Linked DNA regions of Homo sapiens: all the other regions are linked to region 3. The links come from fine-mapping of genetic effects on gene expression. A gene starts in region 3. Each other region holds a variant in brackets. All regions are shown on one strand. Distances are from middle to middle.

Region 1 (5,848 bases), 26 kb after region 3:
TGGAAGCCCACCCCCACGCTGCTTTGAGATGGGCCAAACCAATGTATACCTTACATGTATTGATACATGTCTTTGCCTGTAACTTCCATTTCTCTAAAATGTATAAAATCAAGCTGTAGCCCGACCACCTTGGGCACATGTTCTCAGGACTGCCTGAGGCTGTGTCACAGGCCATGGTCCTTAACATTGGTGAAATAAACCTCTAAATTGATTGAGACCTATCTCATAGACTTTCTGGTTTACACAAGTTATATTAAAATGAACAGAATAGTTGGAATAGAAGGTACCAATATTTTGGCATGGGTTTATGTAAAGCTTTGGTAAATATGTTTCGAATTTAAAACTTTTTCTCCCAAGCCAAATTAACTTCACATTTGATTTGAGGTTTAATTTTTAAAAATTTTTAATATTTATGTGTATGTATTTATGGGGTACATGAGATATTTTGGTACAAGCATACAATGAATAATAATCACATCAGGGTAAATGGGGTATCCACCACATCGAGGATTTATCATTTATGTTACAAACATTCCAATTATACCCTTAGTTATTTTTAAATGTACAATCAACTATTGCTGACTGTAGTCACCGTGTTGTGCTATCAAATACTAGATCTTATTCATTTTATCTGACTATACTTTTGTACCCGCTAAAAATCCCCATTTCCCACTCCCCCCATCCCCACTACCCTTCCCAGCCTCTGGTAACCATCATTCTACTCTATTTTCATGAGTTCTTTTGTTTTAATTTGTATCTCCCACAAATAAGTGAGAACATGCAAAGTTTGTCTTCCTGTGCCTGGCTTATTTCACTGAAAATAATGTCCTCCGGTTCCATCTATGTGGTTGCAAATTGTTTTTTATGGCTGAATAGTACTCTGTTGTGTATATGTACCACATTTTCTTTATCCATTTATCTGTCGATGGACACTTAGATTGCATCTAAATTGGGTTATTGTGAATAGTGCTGCAGTAAACATGGGAGAGCAGATATCTTTTTGATGTGTTGATTTCCTTTCTTTTAGGTATATACCTGGCTTGAGGTTTAATTTTTAAAAGTTCATTGACAACTGGTATTACAAGGCAATCTTCTGACAAAATAAGTTAAATTTCAATTAAAAAGCTGTTACTGCAGTAGCTAAAAACAATTGGAAGGCTATAAAATATTATTATGTTGCATCCTAAGCAGACCCAAACTTTTTTCTTATCCCTTAGGGTTCTCAGTGATCTGTAACATGTCAAATATCACTATGGAAACAAAGTACTTTTACTGTCATGATCAATAGAAAGTGATCAGATGAAAGAATACAAGAAACATAAGCATGTGTAAGAAAAGAGCACAAGCTGTAGGTAAAGATAACAGAGAAAAGCCTGAAGGCCTTGCCCATTTCATGGATATGAATACAATGTGAATGATAGGACGTGTTTAGTCATTTTTGTTTATAATTCATTCCATTTTATGCTGCTTTTAAGAAATTACTTTGAAGAGTGATGCCAATCTGATTCGGCTTTTGTAATCTTCATTTTGAGCAGGGCCATCAATATTTAATAATATTTCCAGGAGATTTTGTATTTGATGGGATTGCATAAAGCAAAGATTAATCTGTATGAAAACACATTCAAAGGGACCAATGATATCTATTTTAATCTGGGGTTCCCAAAGTGTGCTCTGGGAACAACACTGGTGGTCTGGGAGCCTTCTCAAGGGACCACTGATGCCACTAGCGCTTTTTAAAATTCAGGCAAGAATAGTTGGTTGACAATATTTAATAAAAATCATACATTACTGGTATTTTGTCAAAGCCAGGTCTTTTTTTAAAAAATAATAACATAAATGCTGGCACTTATTTCTTTTCCTACCAGAAAGCCAAGCCAAAGTAGTTGATATGATCAATGTGAGCCAAGGATATCTGACTCCCTTGAATGAATTATTAGCTGACAAATGAAAAAATTACACGTTTTGGTAATTTGAAAAAATCTTCCTAATTCTTCACCCCTCCCTGTGTCCCCACCTTTATCCATGCTCTCCCACTCTGACTCTGGGGGGTCACCCTTGTGATTTATTTTTGCTAATATGATATTAGCAAATGTCACACAAAATAAGCTGGAAAAACACCTGAACTGGTAAACATACTCCAGCTAGCCTGCTGGAGATGAAAAACATACAGAGCAAAGCCAAGTCATCCTAGTCATTCCAACTGAAGCCACTGTAGATTGACCAGACAGGTGTGCAAGCCTTGAGTGAGGTCAGTCAAGCCTGCCCAGATCAGCTGAACTCTGCAGATTCATGAACTTAAATATGTGTATTTTTGTTTGCCACATTGAGGTTCAGTTCGTTGTTGTGCAGAATTATGGTGCCAATAGAAACTGATAATATGCCCTCCATTGTAAATTCCCTGGGATCAAAGAGTATTTGCCTGATAGCTTAAGGAGCAGTCTGTTTTCTAGTGGTGCTTGTAAGAAGGACAAACATCTTGCTATTTTTGAAAACTGTATAGCTGTCTGGCATCACAGGAATGTCTGACCTGGGAAGAAAATGAAATCTATCAAATGGTGTGATATATAAATTAGTAAAAAAAAAAAAAAATAGAATGGGGAACTGATATTATTAGAGGATCACAATTCATTACTCTTTTTCTTCCATATAATTTTAGCAGAACTGTTTTTAATACTTTTCATGTCAGGTCATTTTGTATTTACTTCTCTCACATTTTGAAATATTAGAAATAATAATAATTTATTCTATATTATTTAAAGTCTTAAAGTACCTTAAAAGTGATATGAGATGAAAACATTTTAATTCTAACTGTTCTTCTTTTGAAAAAAGCATAAGTTTATTATCAGTGTAGTTAGGCTCAGGTTAGCAGGAAAATTTTTGGTGCATTCAGTGTGCCACATGCTTTCCTGGGCACCAGGAATTCAAAGATGATTAAGACATAATCTTTGCCCT[T/A]AAAACTCTTAAAGATTAGTGAGGGAGGCTGGCCACCATGGCTCACGCCTGTAATCCCAGCACTTTGGGAGGCTGAGGCGGGCAGATCACCTGAGGTCAGGAGTTCAAGACCAGCCTGGCTAAAATGATGAAACCCCATTTCTACTAAAAATACAAAAAATTAACTGGGCATGGTGGCGCGTGCCCGTAATCCCAGCTACTTGGGAGGCTGAGGCAGGAGAATTGCTTGAACCCGGGAGGCGGAGGTTGCAGTGAGCTGAGATCACGCCATTGCACTCCAGCTTGGGCAACAAGAGCGAAACTCCGTCTCAAAAAAAAAAAAAGGAAAAGATTAAAGATTAGTGAGGGAGACAAATTAAAACAGATAATTTCTTGTTGTTTGTTTGTTTGTTTGAGACAGGGTCTTGCTTTGTCGCCCAGGCTAGAGTACAGTGCCGCAATCTTAACTCACTGCAATCTCTGCCTCCCAGGCTCAAGCAATTCTTGTACCTCAGCCTCCTGAGTATCTGGAGTTATAGGCGTGTGCCATCATGCCCGGCTAATTTTTTTTTTTTTTGTATTTTTAGTAGAGACAGGGTCTCACCCTGTTGGCCAGGCTGGTCTTGAACTCCTGATCTAAACTGATCCATCCACCTCAGCCTCCCAAAGTGCTGAGATTACAGGCATGAGCCACCACGCCCAGCCAGATACTTTCAATATAAAGTGATTTGCACAAGATTCTATGGAAGCACAGAGAATTATATGTTGTTTGGCCTGGATATAACACAGAGGATGGTATGTGGCTGATGACTGAGCCCAGAATCACAATCAAAGTGATAAGCAAGGCAAAGAAGTTAGAAAGGATGTTTCAGGTCAGAGGAGACAGAATGAACACAAACCTCAAAGCATGAAGCCATATAGTGTGGTGCGGTGTGTTTCTTATTGCTAAAGAATGGATAATAAAATGGAACATGAGAGAAATGACACTGGAGAAACAGATGGGGCCAGTCCAGGAAGGCTCAGATGCATCCACGTTTAGGGAATGAGTACAGCAGGAGACCACAAAAGGGTTTGAGAAGAAATGGTCAAAACAGAGTGAGGAAGATCAAAAGTGGAGTGTTTTGAAAGCCAAAGGAGTCAAGATGATTAAGAAGATTAATGCCCCAGTGGCTTTGCCACCAGCCAAGCTCCCCTACAAGCTGTTGTCCTCCTTTCTAAAATATACATCTAATCATGTCACTGTTTGGCTTCACACTTCCTGATGGAACACTCTTTCCTACACCTGCCCTTTGCCTCACTCCTACTTATCCTTCACAAGGATAATCAGGGGAGGCATCACTCCCATAGCTCAGCCCTGCTTGGTGTGTAGGAATTGTATTCTCTGGGAGCTGACTTTTGGAGAAGAACTGGAGCTATGCAAGAAAAAGAAAAGGCTAAGAAACAGAAATAATTTTATGAGGAGGGGACTAGAGCAGGACAATCCTGAGCTCTTGCAGAGATTGGGCACATGGATCCAGCAACTTCTACCCCCACCCATTCAAAATATCTAGTGACTAGCATAGGAGTTGATAGGAAAGGCGATCATTTCCTTCTTGCTTAAGTGGGAGGGAAGATATCTGCGCATCAGCTCATGTATACAGAAGAAATTGAGAACAGCAAGTTTTCTTGTTCCTTGGCCAACTGAAAACAAATCTGATCCCCTAAAGGGATGGTGATCAGGAAGAAGCTGAAGAGAGAATTTGTTGAATATAGGGTCTTGAAGACTCAGCACACACCTGTTATTTCAGTTGCAAATGACAGAAACTTGACTGAAACTAACTCAAGTTCAAAAGGAGTTATGTTACCATATGTAATGGGAAGTCTATGGAGGGAACAGATTTCAGCAGTGAGATATGGGACATCCAAACATGTCAACAGGAATGTCTTGTCTCATGTCTCCATTCTGTTTCTTTCTTTCTTTCTTTTTTTTTTTTTTTTTTTTTGAGATAGAGTCTTACTCTGCTGCCCAGGCTAGAGTGCAGTGGTGTGATCTTGGCTCACTGCAACCTCCACCTCCCAGGTTCAAGTGATTCTCATGCCTCAGCCTCCCAAGCAATAGTAACTACAGGCACACCCCACTATGCCCTGCTAATTTTTTTTGGTATGTTTAGTAGAGATGGGGTTTTGCCATGTTGGCCAGGCTGGTCTTGAACTCCTGACCTCAGGTGATCCACCCGCCTTGGCCACCCAACGTTCTGGGATTACAGGTGTGAGCCACCGTACCTGGCCTCTATTCTGTTTCTTAAATACACTCATTTCATATATTGGGCACATCCCTGCTGGCAGCTCCAGGTTTCTATCCTGTTAAAATACATCCAAGTGGAAAGGAAGCCTTCCCTATCACCCATATATCAAATCTCATGGAACAACTCTTTTGGCCTTGTTTGGGTTTGTGCCCTTTTTCAGGACAAATTGCTTTGGACAGGAGGAAAGATATCATTGCTGGACAGGCCAGGGTTAAGGTCACATTATCATAATTGTGGAGGTGCAGTTCCCCACCAGTTGGGTTGGGAAACAGATGCTAGGAAGATGAAATCAGCAGACGCCCACTTCACACAAGGGGTCGGCGGGGAATATGCTCCTGAAAAGCAGCATCCAGAAAACAACTCTTTTCCACTGAGTGGTGCTTTTGCCACATTTTTGTGGAAAAGAGATGCTTTCTTCCAATGGTGGCTAATTAAATGAGGGGGCCAGAGTGGAAAGATAGCTGGGCCTATCTTTGCTCTGAGTACACATGAGAGAGCTATCGTCTCTGAGTGCACAAGAGAGATTCCTGAGTTACCTAAAAAAAGTTTATTATTTCCTGACATCATATGATTTATTTCTTTATTGTTTCTCTTCTCCATTAGAATGTCAGTTCTGTGAAGGCGTGGATGCC
Region 2 (5,848 bases), 69 kb before region 3:
TGGATGCTTTAAAATAATTATGGAAGAAAGCCATAGGAGAGCTAGACATTTTTCCTATTCCTCATTTTAAAGGATGAAAGAGGGCAAAGACTTCCTAAGGATAAAATGGTGCCCCATTCCATCACCCATTTTAAATGACAGACTCAATTTCTTTCATCAATATGAAATATCCGTTTTCAGCTTTTCCATTTACTCAATCAGCCTGGTACCCTCAATCCTACTATCAATGTTTCTCTAATGGGGTGTAATAGGTGCCTAGATATGTACAGCTCTAGGAAAATTAGCAATATTTCACTTTCTAGAGGTGCTACTTGAGTTTTAGAATGGATACACAGTGTAAAAGGAGACTGGGTACATTTTAACTCATTTGTGCTGATTTTTTTTTTTTTTTCAGATAAAAAGGGAACTTCAATCTTTAACACTTCTAATTTAACATGTTTTATAAAATACAATGACCATATATTTTCACTTATGAAATGGAAATTGGTTATACTTTTTACCTGTTACCTCTCTGACAGTCTTGATGTCTGTAGGGGATCCAAGGCCAGAGCGGAGTAACACATAGCTGATAATCTTCCGGTAGAGGCTTTCCAATTCTTCTTTAGCACATGCTCTGTTATCTGTAATTTCTCGGGTAACAGAGCCTAATCTAGACTCTAGGACCCGGTGATGTTCTTCGAGAAATTCCACTAAAATTGCCAAATAACAATGTTCTATATATTTAATTTTTAGAATTCTTCTTACGTAAGAACTAGAGAAAAACTGGATTGGATATGGCAATTCTACTTCAGGAAAACAAGTAATTTCTTAAGCTGTAATAATGAAATAAAAAACAGTGGCCAGCATGTAGCCTCAAGACAAAAATCCAGGAGGGAAGATTTATTACAGTGACTTAAATGGAATACTTTGTCAAAACACCTAAGACTTTAAACAGCCAAACTAAACAGGAGATATCAGAAAAGGCTAAAACCTCCCAATTAAGCAGAAAATAAAGAAGACCATTTCTACAAAATATATATTATATATTTTAATTTTAATACTATATGAAAAAATAAATATATACATATTATATATTTATGCTATATGTAAGCACATGTAGTATACTATACATAAGCATATATAGTAGCAGAAATATATATGTAGTATATATGTTCCTTTCGGTTACGTGTATTTTTATTTCAGTTCTAGATAAATTTCCTCTGAAAAGCATTATTGATAATACGATGTTGCATCGAGAACTGTATCCCTCCTCATTCCTCCTGTGATATGCTGAGGGACAGGCTTCACTTTGGCAGGACACTATGTTCCCTGAGTTGTTGCAAGTACAATTCTGCAATGACTCTATAAGACAACCCATATTACTATTACAAGGTCAATAATTAACATATCCACCACGCACAGTTTATACCTATACCCTTGCCACAAAACCAACTGAGAACTTTTTGCAAATTAAAAATATGTTTAAATAACAAATTTAAAAATCTATAGGTTAAATTTTATCAATTATATGACTATTTCTTGCTTTAAAATTTCACTATTAAGCAAAAACGCAAGATATATACTTTTACATAGGTAGCATAACTGAAACTAACAAAGAGAAACATCACCAAATTGTTAATAATGATTGTACTATACAGTAGAGGTAGAGGTAGTCCATAGAGAAATAGACTTGTTTTATATAGCAGGTGCAGAGGCAGTCCATAGAGAATTACATTTTCCTTTTTCTTTTGTTTCCAACTTGTCTTTGATGTATGCATTAAATTATTTACATAATGAGCCAGGCATGGTGGCTCACACTGATAATCCCAGCACTTTGGGAGTCTAAGGCGTAGACAGATCGCTTGAGGCCTGGATTTCGACACCAGCCTGGGCAACATGGTGAAATCCCGTCTCTACTAAGAATACAAAAATTAGCTGGGCATGGTGGCACACACCTATAGTCCCAGCTACTCGGGTGGCTGAGGTGGGAGAATTGCTTCAACATGGGAGTCAGAGGTTGCAGTGATCTGTGGATCGTGCCACTGCACTCCTGCCTGGGTGACAGAGCAAGACTCTGTCTCAAAAAAAATTTACATATTGAAACGTTTTCTAAACTTAAACTCCCCATCGTTCATTTTTGAATAGTTACATAATTTAGGTAATTATAATGAGATAATAACATAAACCAGGAACAAGAAAATCTATAAATTAAAAACTTTTAACTTCAATGGGCTGAATTCCTAATTATTATGTATTAGTGCCACTGGAAACAATAATTATGAGCACAATAATTGGAATTCACTTTTAACACTCACAAAGGCCAATGGTTTTTTTTCATTTAGCATTTCTAACGTTGTATTCCTCAAAGTTGATTGCCAAAAATTAAATTGTTAAATTGATTAAACAATTAAATTCATTGTCAACCAAATGAAGCCCTTCTTAGCTGAAACACAGTATGAAATTTTTTAAGTATAAAAATAGGTAGTATACATTACCTCGATTCGTATAATTCATATCGAAGTAGACTTGCATCTTAATAGTGTCCAGGGATGGATTTTTAGTATCCAATAGCCGAGTCATACAAAGCTAGAAAAGAATGTCCCATGAATACTTCTAGTTATAGTTTTTGAGACAGTCAAGTATTTCCTAAAGTTATTTTCAAAAATAAAGGGAAAAGCAGTGGTTCCTGATATTGATTCACCAATAACCCCTTTTATTTTTTTTTTCTCCTTGAGGACTTCAGGCTTTATAGTTTATTTAACCAATAACTTTTTTTATTTTTATAGATTTAGGGGGTACAAGTGTCATTTTGTTACATGGATATATTGCGTGTAGTGGTGAAGCCTGGGCTTTTAGGGTAGCTAACACCTGAATAGTGGACATTGTACCCATTAAGTGATTTCTTATCCCTCGCTCCCCTCTCACCCTCCCAAGTCTTCAATGTCTACTGTTCCACTCTCTATGTCCCTGGGTACATATTATTGAGCTCCCACTTATAAGTGAGAACATGTGGTATTTTACTTTCTGAGTTATTTCACTTAAGATAGTAGCCTCCAGTTCCATCCATGTTGCCACAAGACATGATTTCATTATTTTTTATGGCTCAATAAAACTCCATTGTGTGTATGTGTGTATACATTTTCTTTATCCAATCATCTGTTGATGGACACTTAGGTTGATTCCATATCTTTACTACCAATAACATTTGTTAAGTAATAAGTTATTTCCCTTGAG[T/C]TAACCAATAATCATCATGCCAGGTGGCTAGTAGTCTAGTTGAAGGCAAGAAACCTGATGTTTTGGTTAGTTTGAGCAGTCTAAATGTGGGTAAATGTTCCACAAAGCTTATATTCCAGTCTAAAACTCTTCTAGAGTTCCTCATTACTATTTATTTGTGCCTTGAACAACACTCCTCATTTTATTTTATAAAAAGCTGCTGCAGCTGGTGCAGTGGCTCACACCCGTAATCCCAGCATTTTGGGAGGCAGAGGTGGGCAGATCACCCGATGTCAGGAGTTCGAGACCAGCCTGGTCAACATGGTGAAACCCGTCTCTACTAAAAATACAACAATTAGCCAGGCATGGTGGCACACACCTGTAGTCCCAGCTACTCGGGAGGCTGAGACAGGAGAATCGCTTGAGAACCCGGGAGGTGGACATGGCAATGAGCCAAGATCATGCCACCGCACCCCAGCTTGGGGGACAGAGCGAGACTCTGTCTCAAAAAATAAAATATAATTAAATTAAATTAAATTAAAATTAAAAAGCTGCTGCAACCACCCCCCTCTCTTCACAAAATTTCTCTGGTTCTACCCTTGATATTTCTTCTCCTGGTCTGTTTTCTCCTATGAGCCCCCACATAGATGGCTCATTCCCCTTCTCTGCCTTGCCTCTTTATATTGAATATCAACCTCAGTTTTTCTTTCCTTCTCTCATCTCTACTGGTCACCTCCCTCCCCCACTTCCTTCACTGCTCACTCTGTAGGCTGAATATACTGCAGCTGGCAGGCACTTGGCAGCATCACTCTCAACCCATCTCCCTGAGCACCAGCCCTGCTTTCCTGGGAGGAGGGAGGGGAGAATGCAAGACTGAGGATTGGACACTATGTCTTTGCAGAAGCCTGTGCACCTGGATCCCTCCACATACAGAAGTACTGTTCTAAAATGCACACTTAAAAAAATAGCTCATCCACATGATTTTTAGTTGAGAAAAAAATTGTCACTTGAATATAACATATGTTGTTAGTTTATGTACCTGTCGTACTAAAAGTATATTGGCTTGATTCTTTCCAACTTAGTTGAGTTGGGGAATTGGGGGGAATGGAAAACTCTTCTTGGGTCATGACAAGGAGAACAACTTATTTTCTGCCCCTCCTGGATTCTCTTCCACGGCTTTCCAATAAAATTTCTGACTGCCACAATCACTTCCCCTATTGCTAAGAACAAGCTTTATACCATCTTTTCTCTGCATCCTCACCAATATCTGTTATGTTTTTACTTTTTAAAGATATTCTAACTGGTGTAAGATTGTATCTCATTGTCAGAATAGAAAATCCAGACACAAAGCCACATACCTGCAGTCAGGTGATCTTTGACAAAGTCAACAGAAACATACACTGGAGAAATGACATCCTATTCAATAAATGGTGCTGGGAAAATTGGATTACCATATGCAGAAGAATGAAACCCATCCCAATGTCTCACCATATACAAAAATTAACAACTCAAGATTGATTAAAGACTTAAATGTAAGACCTGAAACTATAAAAATAACAGAAAAAAACCTAGGGGGCTGGGCATTGGCCTACGCAAAGAATTCATGACTTAAAAGTAAATGCAACAGAAATAGACAAATTGGATTTAAATAAACTAAAAAGCTTCTACACATCAAAATGAATAATCAACAGAGTGAAAAGACAGCCTGCAGAATGGGAGAAAATATGTACAAACTATGCATCTGACAAAGGACTAATATTCAGGATCTACGAGGAACTCAAACAACTCGACAACAACAAATAACCCCATTATAAAGTGGGCAAAGGCCATGAATAGATATTTTTCAAAAGAAGACATACAAATCGCCAAAAAGCATGAAAAAAATGCTCAACATCACTCAGCATTAGAGAAATGCAAATTAATTTAGTTCTATTTAACTTCACAGTATATGACGAACTAGTTAATGTTTGCAATGTAAGACATTAGTAACAAGGTTTCACTAAAATACTGTAGCAGATGCTGCTACCTGCCCAATTTCCCTGCCCTTCCTTCCTTACTAACAGAGCCTCAATTTGGATTGGGGCAAGGATTTATTCATCTAAGAAAGAAAAAAGAAGTGAAATGTCCCTGGGTCACTTACAATATCATTCTGGTCAATAAATGTTAAGTAGATGGGAGGGATTCTGGGAAAATTATTATTTTCTGGATAGAAGGTGATAGACCCAATTGGCACACATATTTTGCCCTTTGTCTTTCCCCCTTCTTTCTGCCTAGAGGCAGGGTAGCTATCTTTTGACCACCAGATGACCATATTGCAAGGATGGTGTGCCCCAGGAAGCCAGGAAGAATGGTCTATGTCTCTCCAGATTTTGTGTTATGAGAAAAATATCTCGTGTATACTACTATTTTGTGGGCTTTTGTTTCATGCAGCTGAAGGCAATAATGACTAATACAAATATTGTATTTACAACTGAGAATAAGTAATTGCAAATTTGAGGACTGTTGGGTAATCACCTTAACAAGATTCTGCACATCACTTTTCATGAGGGTTCTATCCATGTTAAAGCCATTACTTGGATCCAGGACAACAGCTTTCACCTAGAAAAAAGTAGGAACGAGTCCATTAACTAGGAAAGAATCCATTAAGCAATTTTAT
Region 3 (5,848 bases):
AAGAGAGTGACAGCTAAGGGGTAACACGAGGGAGTTCCTTTGTGGTGATGGAACAGCTCCATGTTGTGATTGTGGTGATGGCACATTAATATACACACATGATAAATTTCATAAAACTCTATGCCGGGGGAAAAAAGTGTACATAAGGTCTGTACCTGAGTTAATAGTATTGTTTCAATGCCAGTGTTCCAGCTTTGACAAAGTGCCAGGATTATGTAAGATATCAATGGAAGCTGGATGAAGGGTACAGGGGAACTCTGATCTATTTTGCAACTTGTGAGTCTTAAACTATCTTGAAATAAAAAAGGTTATTTAAACGTGAAGGAAAAAATACACATGCTTAGTCCTGACCGTAGAGGTCCTAATTTAGTGGCTCTGTGTTAGATTAGTATTAAATCCAGTGGGTCTGTGTTTGGATATCTGTATTAATATTTTTTTTCAAAGTTCTATATAGTGCACTGCCAGGATTGAGAACTATCGTCCTATGAAATACTCACTAGCTCTTCTACGGACATTTCAAAATGCTTATAAAGAACAGACAATTTCAACTTTCTTTCTTTTTTAACTTAAAACAGTTCAATGACAAAGGTCACTGAATAGAAAAGATTAATTTCTAACAATAGATTTAACTTATCCACTTAAGGTTTGGGTTAGATATTCCATAAGGCATAAGGAATCAATCATTAAGGTATATCTAAGAATGGAGATACACTGTCCTGGGTATGAAAAGTCACTTTAGAGATCATAATGAATCATTCATACTAAGCACTTACTAAATGCTAAGAAACAATTTTGGAATTGATGTTTTTAGAAGATGATTCCAATTTGATCTCCCCCTACATTTTAGTTTTTTTTTCCAAACACCTCTGCTCTCCAGCTTCTTATATTTTCAAATATCAGGAGTGAAATGAAATCACCCTTAGTTTACCATTTTAAAGGAAGAGAGGATCAGAGAAGTATTGTGAGAGTTCTTAGGAAAATACCTACAAGGCTCAAGGTCAGACTGAAAACTCTTACGGGGATAAAAGAGAGATGGAAACCTATAGTACAATTTGATTTGCTTATTATATATACATACGTATGTACAGTAAACGTCCTCATGTTATCTATATGTATCTACTTTTATGCTACCAGCTACTATTTAAAGGTTATATAGTTTCTTTTACCCATTTATTAGGGTACTTTAAAATTTTTTTTTTTTTTTTTTTTTTTTGAGGCAGAGTCTCGCTCTGTCACCCAGGCTAGAGTGCAGTAGCACGATCTCAGCTCACTGCAACCTCCACCTCCTGGGTTCAAGCAATTTTCTTACCTCAGCCTCCCGAGTAGCTGGGATTACAGGCGCATGCCACCATGCCTGCTTAAATTTTTTTAGTAGAGACGGGGTTTCGCCATGTTGGCCAGGCTGGTCTTGAACTCTTGGCCTCAAGTGATCTGCCCACCTCGACCACCCAAAGTGCTGGGATTACAGGTGTGAGCCACTGTGCCCATCCAATTAGGGTGTTATTTAGAGATAATATTTCCTCTCCTACACATACTGAAAGGTGCTCAAGTATGGCCAAGGGCAAAATGAACTCACATTTACTATTATGTGCCAGGATTTATAATAGATACAAATACTTCATTAAAGTCTCATAACAACCTGTAAGATAGGTATTAGTATATTTATTTCCACATAAGGAAACAGATTGAGAGGCTAAATACCCTGCCCAATACATACAACTGTAAGTGGAGAAGCTGTATTCCAACCCATATTCTCCTCAAATATCCCTGTAGGGACAAGCAACTCTGAAGAGAAAAAAGCTGATAAAAGTCTATGTAACAGAAAGAATGACACATAAGGCTATGAAGCATTAGAACAAAGGAAAACGATAAAGTCACTTACCTAGTATGTCTTTGTGAGTGTAAAAGCGTGTCTTAAGTGGCTTGTATTCATGGATCCGTTTGAAGGTTTTTCCAAAAGGGGCTGGTGGAATTATTTTATTACAAACAGCACAGCAAACAAAGTTTTTGTAATCTGAATTTCTGATCATAGTTAAATTTCAGATGTCTTCTCCTACTTACAGTTAAAATAATCTTAGAATCAGAAAAAGTCGTTTCAAGAAAAGCTGAAAGTTTAAGAAAGCTGGAAGAGGTTCAGGGTTTTAGGATAATGCTAGAGGCTGGTAAGGATTAAATGGTTCAAGTGATTAGGCTGTGGTTATGTGTCTAACGTTAAAGAATGGTGCTAAAAGCCCCTGCCATAGAAGGTATGGGCACCAGATTTGGGAAGATTTAAGTAGTTGCTCCTTCCCAGACTCTAGCATTAAGTTGTTAACTTACTTGGCAACTGTTGCTAGGTAAGACAAGCTTTGCTCATAAAAGCAACTTCAAATAATGACAAAAGGGAGCATGATACAGCCATTCATTTTCCTGATACTTTCTATATTAGTTTCCTATTGCTGCTGTCTTACTCTGTTTTCTGTTGCTTATAATAGAATACCTGAAACTGGATAGCTTATAAAGAAAATGAAATTATTTCTTACAGTTTATGGAGGCTGAGAAGTCCAAGGTGGAGGAGTTGCATCAGGTAAGAATCTTCTTGGTGGTGGGAACTCACTGAAGATTCCTGAGGTGGTATAGGGTATGACATGGCCAGGGGCTGAGCTCACATGCTAGCTCAGGCCTCTCTTCCTCTTCTTATAAAACCACCAGTTCTCCTCCCATGATAATCCATCAATCCCTTAACCCATGAATGAATTCACTCACCCCTTAAAGGCCCCACTTCTCAATACTACCACGTTGGGGATTAAAGTTCAACATGAGTTTTGCAGGGGACAAATATTCAAACCATAGCACCACTGTGACAAACTACACAAACTTCATAGTTTAAATGTAACACAAATTTATCCTCTTGCATTTCTGGAGATCAGAAGTCTAAAATGAGTCTTAGGGGCTAAAATCAAGTTGTTAGAAGGGCTGGTTCCTTCTGCAGGCTTCAGAGGAGAATGTGTTTGCTTGCCTTTTCCAGCTTCTAAAGGCCATCCATATTCCTTGGGGTCATGGCCTTGCATCATATAGCCTTTTCCCCCAGTGCTTCCATAGTGACATTGTCTCTTCCTCTGATCTTCTGCCGTGCTTTAAAGACCTTGGTGATTATACCAGCCCCATCTAGATAATCCAGGATAATCTCCCCATCTCAAAATCCTAAACTTACCCATATCCGTAAAGTCCCATATTTACAGGTTCCAGAGATTAGGATCTGGACATTTTTGCAGGGAAGGAGAGCATTAGTCAGCCTACCACACTTTGTTTTAAATTAGTTTTTAAAGAATTAATTTCTTTTAAGGCCAGCAATGGAGGTAGCTTAATTTCTTTTAGGTTTTTAATAAACATGATGTGTTGGTGCCATGGTAATAAAACTGGGAAATATCATGGTATCTTGAAGAAGAAATTACTTTCATTAAGGCAGCATTCAAAATTACTAAGCCTGGTTTTAAAAATCACATGGTTAACTAATTTGTTCCTATAATTTTAGATAAACAGCCATAGAAATTCCACCTATCGCAAAAATCTGTGCAACTGATTGTACCAAGTAACTGAATTTATAAAATTGCCTGACAATGTCATATGCTGCATCTACTTGGCAGGACTATTTTATAATAAGTGAGTGCCATCAGTGAAATTAATTTCAACAACAGGACTCCCATAGGGCCCTGAGCTAAGTGTACCACAAGTTACTCTATAATTTATATTAACACATACGGCCTGATAACTGGCTGAAGACCTTAAGTAACTATCAAATTGTGCCAGATTTGACTTCAAGAAAAGGGTTAACTGGGACTTGGAGAGGAATTAAAAACAAAGAGATGAATTAGTATGAAGAATGAGGATTACTGCATCCACACAGTTAATTATCTGGATTGAGAACTGAGGCTACTTGTGCCAATAACTTTCCTATCTGTTACTAGAAATTCTTGCCCAGATGGAAGGATAACTAACTGGCCTTGATTTGCCTGGGACTGTCCCTGTTTTAAAACTGAAAGTCCTGAACTTCCTTAGTGTCTGGCAAATTGGAAGAGTTGGGCCTCCTATGGAAGATAAGGCTGTAAAACCAATAAATACTTTCAGTGTTTGCCTTAGGAAATCCTTGAAAAACAATTTATCAATTGGACAGCTTGCTGATCTAGGCAAACAGCTCTTCCATCAGAAGATTAGACTACTCCCCTGGGCAAAGAGTTCACTTAACATTTATTGAACAATAGTTTACTAATCAAGACTTGCTTCAAGATCTAATCTGTTCTGTCAGGTACCTTGCCCATTCTCAACCAGATTCCTGCATTGAAAGACCCTTCTTTAATCACTTGAACTCAGACTTCCAAAAGACTTTAATATCTTCCCCTGACCATCCCATTCTTAAATACAGCTAACTTTGTAAAAGTGGTATTTCCCTTTAGTGCAGTAGATTTAATAAGCTTAGTTTTGTTTGATCATCAGGTTGTTCTGATGGTCTTGTGAGGGAGCTGGCAGTTAACAGTCCTTTACATAATTCTGTTTTAAAGTACAGGAGTGTTTCTCTACTTAAGATCTAAACTTCTTATTTTTAAGGGCTAATGTGGCTGCTTTATTATTATGTGCACATTTACACATAGAAGGTGGTATAGTATGGTGAAAAGATCCCTAGACTTTAGAGCAAGAAGATACAGGTTCTACTCCTGACTGAGAATCTCCCTGATCTTTGGTAAATCTCTTAGCCATTCTCAGCCTATTGTCTTAACCATAAACTGACAGGATTGGATCAGGTGAAGTTCAATGTTCAGAATCTTTGGACTATTTGAAAGGTATTTTATTTTTGATGGTTATACCCTCATTCAACAAAGAAAGGATGAAAACATCAACACATAGGCAGGCAGCTGTTGACACTCAGCACACACAAAGACTGTCCTACAACTTGTAGTCACTCTGTAAAAAGTATCATAGTCAGGTACTTGTTCCTAAAATTCAGTATGATTCTTTCCACACACTACTTTTCACAGCTTTGTGCTTGACTGACTCTAGTTACTTTGGTTCATTCACATAGATCTTACATGACTCAAGTCTGCACCTTGTACAGTTTCTGTTGCCCTCCTGCACTGCAATCTCTTGACAGTTCACGCAACTAATAACTCCTCTGCCACCAAACATCAGCTTATTCTGTTGAATAGTAAAAAATTCTAAAAGATGGCAATGTGTCATTAAATGCATAAGTTAAAAACAGAAGAACCCTAGTTTTGTGATAGCCAAAATACACAGGGAAAACAAAAACAAAAGAGTCTTTAAAAGGGATTTTGTATCACTGAAGTGCATTTTAAACTATATGAAGTACATTATACAGACAGGCATAGCAAATACATATTTGGGGCTCAGTAGTAAAGATTTTATTTAGTTTCATGTAAATTCAATTAGCTAAGTTCTTTAATACCTACAAATCACACATAATTACATTTTCATGTACCTTACAAAACCATAATAAAGTATGACAAATTAAAAATAACATTATGATAAACTCTGCCTGTGCTGTTATTATTACTTGGTAATATTAATAGCGACTGAAGCAAGACTTCAGAGGTAAGATTTACTACTGAGGCCCAATGACAATGATTTGGAGAATTAGGTATATATCTAGAAATGAAACGGGTCCAGAACCCTTGTAAGAAAGATTTGAATTCTATAAGGCAGAATCTGGCCAGACACAGGGGCCTAGCCTTGACCTCTGTCCTAGGCCCCTGGGCCAGGTGCCAGGACAACCAAGGCCATTCTGCTTCTCACCTCCAGTGGGTACTGACCGTAGGGCTAGGCTTTGTTTACACTCATTTTTACCCCCATTTCTGTC

What was found. PIP is the estimated chance that this variant, and not a neighbour inherited with it, causes the effect.
Region 1: its variant is the best candidate, but not a certain one, in a credible set for the expression of C6orf163 in testis (GTEx, PIP 0.61).
Region 2: its variant is the best candidate, but not a certain one, in a credible set for the expression of C6orf163 in whole blood (TOPMed, PIP 0.50).

What each region holds. Positions count from the first base shown.
Region 1 is chr6:87,314,861-87,320,708 of GRCh38, reverse strand. The region is part of intron 2 of GJB7 (gap junction protein beta 7); the gene reads left to right. Among named protein-coding and RNA genes, the nearest start is that of SMIM8, 4.8 kb to the left of the region's middle. The variant T/A (reference allele first, on the strand shown) is at 2,953.
Region 2 is chr6:87,410,527-87,416,374 of GRCh38, reverse strand. It overlaps CFAP206 (cilia and flagella associated protein 206), which reads right to left. Exons shown (of 13, transcript NM_001031743.3): 3 at 5,707-5,790; 4 at 2,475-2,565; 5 at 501-689. Among named protein-coding and RNA genes, the nearest start is that of CFAP206, 5.5 kb to the right of the region's middle. The variant T/C (reference allele first, on the strand shown) is at 3,214.
Region 3 is chr6:87,341,282-87,347,129 of GRCh38, reverse strand. It overlaps C6orf163 (chromosome 6 open reading frame 163), which reads right to left and starts at 2,317. Exons shown (of 5, transcript NM_001010868.3): 1 at 1,883-2,317. The coding sequence starts at 2,030. SMIM8 (small integral membrane protein 8) reads right to left here. Exons shown (of 4, transcript NM_001042493.3): 4 at 4,801-5,848.